Linked DNA regions of Homo sapiens. The protein of the gene in region 1 purifies or fractionates together with the protein of each later gene. This does not show direct contact. Each region holds a gene or a part of one and is shown in the gene's direction. Other genes may lie near its edges.

The links.
Region 2: the proteins of ARHGEF9 (region 1) and CCNT1 purify together in Homo sapiens (affinity purification with mass spectrometry, with the first as the bait; one large-scale study listed by BioGRID). This does not show direct contact.

Annotation. Positions count from the first base shown.
Region 1 is NC_000023.11:63,775,062-63,778,881, reverse strand, and holds part of ARHGEF9 (rho guanine nucleotide exchange factor 9), read left to right. Parts: intron 1-3,820. UniProt on the Homo sapiens protein: Acts as a guanine nucleotide exchange factor (GEF) for CDC42. Promotes formation of GPHN clusters.
Region 2 is NC_000012.12:48,692,440-48,696,259, reverse strand, and holds part of CCNT1 (cyclin-T1), read left to right. Parts: intron 1-21; exon of another isoform or gene 22-97; coding exon 98-261; intron 262-430; coding exon 431-501; intron 502-1,823; coding exon 1,824-3,227; 3' UTR 3,228-3,820. UniProt on the Homo sapiens protein: Regulatory subunit of the cyclin-dependent kinase pair (CDK9/cyclin-T1) complex, also called positive transcription elongation factor B (P-TEFb), which facilitates the transition from abortive to productive elongation by phosphorylating the CTD (C-terminal domain) of the large subunit of RNA polymerase II (RNA Pol II).

The DNA of each region.
Region 1 (3,820 bases):
CAAAAAGTCCAGGCTGAGGTGGTCTCAGATAGAGATGAGAAACTTATTGCGAACTGGAGCAAAGGTGATTCTTTCTATGTTTTAGCAAAGAGGCTGGCAACATTTTGCCCCTGCCCTAGAGATCTGTGGAACTTTGAACTTGAGAGAGATGATTTAGGATATCTGGTGGAAGAAATTTCAAAGCAGCAAAGCATTCAAGAGATGACTTGGGTGCCCTTAAAAGCATTCTGTTTTATTAATTCACACAGATATGGCTTGGAATTAGAACTTATGTTGAAAAGGGAAGCAGAGCATACAAGTTTGGAAAATTTGCAACCCTGGCCATGCAATAGAAAAGCAAAACCCATTTTCTGGGGGAGAAATTGAAGCTGGCTGCAGAAATTTGAATAAGTAACAAGGAGCCAAATGTTAATTGCCAAGACAATGAGGAAAATGTCTTCAGGGCATGTCAGAGGTCTTCCCAGCAGCCCCTCCCATCAAGTGCCTGGAGGTCTAGGAGGAAAAAATGGTTTCATGGGCCAGCCCAGGGCCTTGCTACTTTGTAAGGTTTTGGGACTTGGTGACCTGCATCTCAGCTGTGGCTAAAAGGGGCCAACGTAGAGCTCAAGCCATTGCTTCAGAGGGTACAAGCCCCAAGCCGTGGCAGGTTATACATGATGTTGGGCCTGCGGGTACACAGAAGTCAAGAATTGAGGCCAAACCTTCCCAAGAAAGTCTGCCTAGATTTCAGAGGATGTATGGAAATGCCTGGATGTCCAGGAAGGAGTTCAATGCAGCAGTGGAGCCCTCATGGAGAACTTCTGCTCAGGCAGTGTGGAAGGGAAATGTGGGGTTGGAGCTCCCACACAGAGTCCCCACTGGGGCACTGCCTAGTGGAGTTGTGAGAAGAGGGCCACTGTCCTCCGGACACCAGAATGATAGATTCAATAGCTTGCACTGTGTGCCTGGAAAAGCCATGGGCACTCAATGCCAGCCATGAAGGCAGCCTGGAGGGGGACTGTACCCTGCAAAGCCAGAGGGGCAGAGTTGCCCAAGCCTGTGGGAGTCCACCTCTTGTTTCACAGTGACCTGATGTGAGACATGGCGTCAAAGAAGATTATTTTGGAGCTTTAAGATTTGGCTGCTCCACTGGATTCTGGACTTGCATGGGACCTGTAACTCCTTTCTTTTGGCCAATTTATCCCATTTGGAATAGGCTTATTTACCCAATGTCTTTGTATCTAGGCATCTTTATGTCTATAATTTCATTGTATCTAAGAAGTAACTAACTTGCTTTTTATTTTCCAGGCTCATAGGCAGAAGGGACTTGCCTTGTCTCAGATGAGACTTTGGACTTGGACTTTTGAGTTAATGCTGGAGTGAATTAAGACTTTGAGGGACTGTTGGAAGGGCATGATTGTGTTCTGAAATGTGAGGACATGAGATTTGGGAGGGGCCGGTGGTGGAATGCTATGGTTTGGCTGTGTCCCCACCCAAATCTCATCTTTAATTGTAGTTCCCATAATCCCCATGTGTCATGGAAGGGACCTGGGGAGGTAATTGAGTCATGCGGGCAGTTACCCTCATGCTATTCTTGTGATAGTGCCTGAGTTCTCACAAGATCTGATGGTTTCATTAGGGGCTTTTCCTCCTCTTTTCTCTACACTTCTCCTTGCTGCCTCCATGTGAATAATGATGTGTTTGCTTCCCCTTCTGCCGTGATTGTAAGTTTCCTGAGGCCTCCCCAGCCAATGCTGAACTGTGAGTCAATTACACCTCTTTCCTTTATAAATTGCCCAGTCTCAGATATGTCTTTATTAGCAGTTCGAGAATGGGCTAATACATGACATGCTTCCTGGAGATAGGGGGTGCAAAATAGAGCAGTGTTTCTGGAGGATTTAGCGGGAGGAGATGACTAGTACAGTAGTACAGTCTCAGCCCTGATGAGTTTCAGATGCTTGGACAATCTTACATTGTAGATATCTAATAGGCAGTTGGTGATCAGATATTGAGCTCAGAGGGATTGGGAGGTATTGATGACAGTTGAAGTTCTGAGGGTAGATGAACTACCTAGCATTTAAAAGTGCCGTACAGCTTGGGAAAGTGAGAGGTAGGAGCAGAACTTGAATCTCCTTCTTTTTTAATTCTCCTAACCTGGAACAGTCCACTTTGTTATCTACTTTCTAGAATTTACATGTCAGCACTATTGTTTCAGGCTTTACTCTCTGCACAGTGCTCATGTTGCTTCTGGACTGCCTGAGCTATAATGTCCAAGTTGGATGACCTTGGGGATAATCTAGCTCAACTCCTTAGATCAGGGGTCAACAAACTATAGCCTGCTGGCCAAATCTAGCCAACAAGCTAAGAATGATTTTTACATTTTTAAATTGTTAGGAAAATATCAAATGAAGAATAGTGTTTGGTGGTACAAGTATATGAAATTATAATGAAATTCAAATTTCAGCATCCAAAAATAAACCTTCATTGGAACACAGCCATGCCCACTCATTTGCTTATTGTGTATCGCTGCCTTTGTGATACAAAAGCAGAGTTGAATAGTTGTGACAGAGACCATATGGCCCCCAAAGCTTAAAAAATTCAGTATTTGGCCCTTTACAGAAAAGGTTTGCAGACTCCTGGCTCTGAACCCTAGGGTTACCATGGCAGTGCCTTGGTGAGGGGGAGAAAGGAGCAGAAAGGAGTGTGGATCTCTCACCTCTGGTCTAGAGCACCTGGGGCCTTTGCTTTATACATTGGATTGTTGCTTAAGATTTTGGAAAAAGGGGTTTTTCTCATCCTGCATTCCCTCTATCCCCCACACAAAATGTACTGGGCTGAGGTGTGGGAGAGTCAAAGGAAGATGTGGCTTATGTCTTCAAGCAGCTTAGTATTGAGTAGGGGGGAAATAAAGACAGGCTGGACTAAATGCTTTAGGAATGTATATAGAAGATAATGTAAGGAAATAGGGGAGCAAGAACGTGGTGGGTGAGGGGTTCAGGGTATTGTGTAGGGCTTCCAAGAGACAGTATTTAAATGTACTTTTGATTTTATTTTTTATTTTTATCTTCTAATTTTTATTTCAGGTTCAAGGAGTATGTGTGCCAGTTTGTTATATGGGCAAATTGTGTGTCATGGGGTTTGATGTATAGATTATTTCTTCACCTAGGTAATAAGCATATTACTCAATAGGTATTTTTTCAGTCCTCACCCTCCTCACATCCTTCACCCTCAAGTAGGCCTCAGTGTCTGTTGCTCCATTCTTTGTGTCCATGTGTACTCAATGTTTATCTCACACTTGTAAGTGAGAACATGCAGTACTTGGTTTTCTGTTTCTGTGTTAATTCGCTTAGGATAATGACCTCCAGCTCCATCCATGTTGCCGCAAAGGACATGTTCTCGCGTTTTTATGGCTGTGTAGTATTCCATGGTGTATATGTACCATATTTTCTTTATCCAATCCACTGTGACGGGCATCTAGGTTGATTTTATGTCTTCGCTATTGTGAATAGTGCTGTGACGAACATACATGTGCATATATCTTTATGGTAGAATGATTTATATTCCTTTGGCTATATACCCAGTAATGGGATTGCTAGGTGAAATGGTATCTCTGTTTTAAGTTCTTTGAGAAATCTCCAAACTGCTTTCCACAGTGGCTTAACTAGTTTACATTCCCACTAACAGTGTATAAGTGTTGCCTTTTCTCTGCAACCTCATCAGCCATTTGTTATTTTTTGACTTCTTAATAATAGGCATTCTGACTGGTGTGAGATGGTATCTCATTGTGGTTTTGATTTGCATTTCTCTAGTGATTAATTATGTTGAATATTTTTTCATATGC
Region 2 (3,820 bases), on another chromosome or scaffold:
TTTTTTTTTTTTTTTTTTTTAAATAATGGAGAGTTTTAGCTTTGGGCTGAGAATTGAGAGCTCATGACACTCTCTGTTTTCTTCCCTCTGATGTCAGCCTGCATTTGACCACATTTAGCCTGCAGTACACACCTCCTGTGGTGGCCTGTGTCTGCATTCACCTGGCTTGCAAGTGGTCCAATTGGGAGATCCCAGTCTCAACTGACGGGAAGCACTGGTGGGAGTATGTTGACGCCACTGTGACCTTGGAACTTTTAGATGGTAAGTTTTAGAGTAAGGGACCTTGAAAAGCACTTGCTGTTGATCTGTCACATAGCTGGCCAAAGGTGACTTGATTCAGATGAAAATAGTTAGTTAGTAGTTCAGGTTATTCTTGTTTCATTACTTCTGTTTCTCTCAGTCTTTCTTGAATGTTCTGTTTTACTTGTAGAACTGACACATGAGTTTCTACAGATTTTGGAGAAAACTCCCAACAGGCTCAAACGCATTTGGAATTGGAGGGTAAGAATCATTACTGTCAGCTTGTGGAACAAAATCAATTTCTTTTGACTGCACCAGTGAATATACCAGTATTGAATATGTACCCTAGGTTTGGAATTGCCCTTTTTATAGTTACACAGTAATCATGACTTCTACTTCATACCTTGGATACTGTTGTAAAAGTCAGTGTCTCTATGGGATAGCAGGATTTGCTTTTCATTGTGTAACTCCTGTGATATGATCATTTGAGCAGTAACACTGGTTCAGTATTTTCTGTGTGGAAACTGGTAGGGAAAAAACATGGCTTCTCGGAGTTAGAGTATTGGCTTCTGGTAGAGGCAAGATAGAGAATTACAAGGTTAGAGCCGGTATCACAGTTTTGTGTTTGACATTACCTACTTTTAAAATGGATTTTAGAATTTTGTTTTTATATAGGCTGTAGTCTGAAGTTGTATTTCAAATACTTGTCAAAGCCTTATTCAGGAATAATGGAATCATTCCTTTTTTTTCTGTCAGATATAAAACTTGTTTTAAAATGTTTCCATTGTTTTCTCCTAAATCCAGACAGAAAAAGTTAATTTCATTCTCCTGAGTTGAGTGAGTGGCAGAGAGTGAGTTTGCCTCTTAGAAGCCTGAGATTAGAAGTAGGCTTGAGAGGCCGGGCATGGTGGCTCATGCCTGTAGTCCCAGCACTTTGGGAGGCCAAGGCAGGCGGATCAACTGAGGTCAGGAGTTCGAGACCAGCCTGGCCAACATGGTGAAACCTCGTCTCTACTAAAAATACAAAAATTAGCCAGGCATGGTGATGCACACCTGTAGTTCCAGCTACTTGGGAGGCTGAGACAGGAGAATCGCTTGAACTCGGGACGTTAGGTTGCAGTGAGCCGAGATTGTGCCACTGCACTCCAGCCTGGATGACAAAGTGAGACTCTGTCTCAAACAAACAAACAAACAAAAAACAACAGTAACAACAAAAAAGAAGTAGGCTTGAGAGCACATCTTTTACTTTAGCATAAAACCTCACCAAAATTTCTAGAACTCAGTTATGGACTAACTATAATCATAAGCGAAGGCATGGATGTTCATGTATGAATTTTAGATAAGCATAGATTCTTTGTTGTTATTATTGCTTTGTAACGTTTGGATAGATTGCTGTGACTCTTAATTGAAGGTTTTAAAATCTTCTCTTGATGGTAATATTTATTGGATTACATGTTAGGATAGCCTCCTGCCTGTGGCCTATCCAGAACTTCCAGTGTTGCTGCAAGTACAATCTACTCATCTCAGTGTTTTTTTATTTAGTAAATTACCTAAGTAAAGAGATGCTATTTGCTTCATTGCAGGCATGCGAGGCTGCCAAGAAAACAAAAGCAGATGACCGAGGAACAGATGAAAAGACTTCAGAGCAGACAATCCTCAATATGATTTCCCAGAGCTCTTCAGACACAACCATTGCAGGTTTAATGAGCATGTCAACTTCTACCACAAGTGCAGTGCCTTCCCTGCCAGTCTCCGAAGAGTCATCCAGCAACTTAACCAGTGTGGAGATGTTGCCGGGCAAGCGTTGGCTGTCCTCCCAACCTTCTTTCAAACTAGAACCTACTCAGGGTCATCGGACTAGTGAGAATTTAGCACTTACAGGAGTTGATCATTCCTTACCACAGGATGGTTCAAATGCATTTATTTCCCAGAAGCAGAATAGTAAGAGTGTGCCATCAGCTAAAGTGTCACTGAAAGAATACCGCGCGAAGCATGCAGAAGAATTGGCTGCCCAGAAGAGGCAACTGGAGAACATGGAAGCCAATGTGAAGTCACAATATGCATATGCTGCCCAGAATCTCCTTTCTCATCATGATAGCCATTCTTCAGTCATTCTAAAAATGCCCATAGAGGGTTCAGAAAACCCCGAGCGGCCTTTTCTGGAAAAGGCTGACAAAACAGCTCTCAAAATGAGAATCCCAGTGGCAGGTGGAGATAAAGCTGCGTCTTCAAAACCAGAGGAGATAAAAATGCGCATAAAAGTCCATGCTGCAGCTGATAAGCACAATTCTGTAGAGGACAGTGTTACAAAGAGCCGAGAGCACAAAGAAAAGCACAAGACTCACCCATCTAATCATCATCATCATCATAATCACCACTCACACAAGCACTCTCATTCCCAACTTCCAGTTGGTACTGGGAACAAACGTCCTGGTGATCCAAAACATAGTAGCCAGACAAGCAACTTAGCACATAAAACCTATAGCTTGTCTAGTTCTTTTTCCTCTTCCAGTTCTACTCGTAAAAGGGGACCCTCTGAAGAGACTGGAGGGGCTGTGTTTGATCATCCAGCCAAGATTGCCAAGAGTACTAAATCCTCTTCCCTAAATTTCTCCTTCCCTTCACTTCCTACAATGGGTCAGATGCCTGGGCATAGCTCAGACACAAGTGGCCTTTCCTTTTCACAGCCCAGCTGTAAAACTCGTGTCCCTCATTCGAAACTGGATAAAGGGCCCACTGGGGCCAATGGTCACAACACGACCCAGACAATAGACTATCAAGACACTGTGAATATGCTTCACTCCCTGCTCAGTGCCCAGGGTGTTCAGCCCACTCAGCCCACTGCATTTGAATTTGTTCGTCCTTATAGTGACTATCTGAATCCTCGGTCTGGTGGAATCTCCTCGAGATCTGGCAATACAGACAAACCCCGGCCACCACCTCTGCCATCAGAACCTCCTCCACCACTTCCACCCCTTCCTAAGTAAAAAAAGAAAAAGAAGAGGAGAAAAAAACTTCTTTAAAAAAACACATAATTTTTCTTTTTTTTTTTTGGACTAAGAAAATTACTTATGAAATATGTCATCCTTGGACTAGGGAATAAATTGATATTGAGACATAGTTAGGAGGGTGGTAGAAGGCCTTGGCTATATATCTGCTGTCTCATGCATTTAACTATTTTCTTACAGTTTTTACTGGTATTAGAGAGGTGTTGAAGCTGTGAAGGATTAAGGACACATTCTGAATTCTTGGCCTCTCCACCATCTAATTAGGTTGATTGGAGTTGATATCTTCCCTCTTCTTGCCAGAGCTGAAAAATGGAGGGTTTCTTGTATCAGACAATTGTGGATCCTTTCGGTGTTTAATATATCAGAAGAGAGGAAGTATTTAAACGTCAAATCTTTTAATAGACTTAATAATTTAAAGAAAGTAAGTTATCTGTTTAGTTTTTTTATATAATTGGGAAGGGGATAGGGATTTTGCTGTGTGTATATGATACATAGCAGTAACTCCTGGTGGGTGGGATTGGAGGGTGGGAATGTGTGAGGGTGGGTGGGAGGCTAGGTTTTTGGCTAGGAGT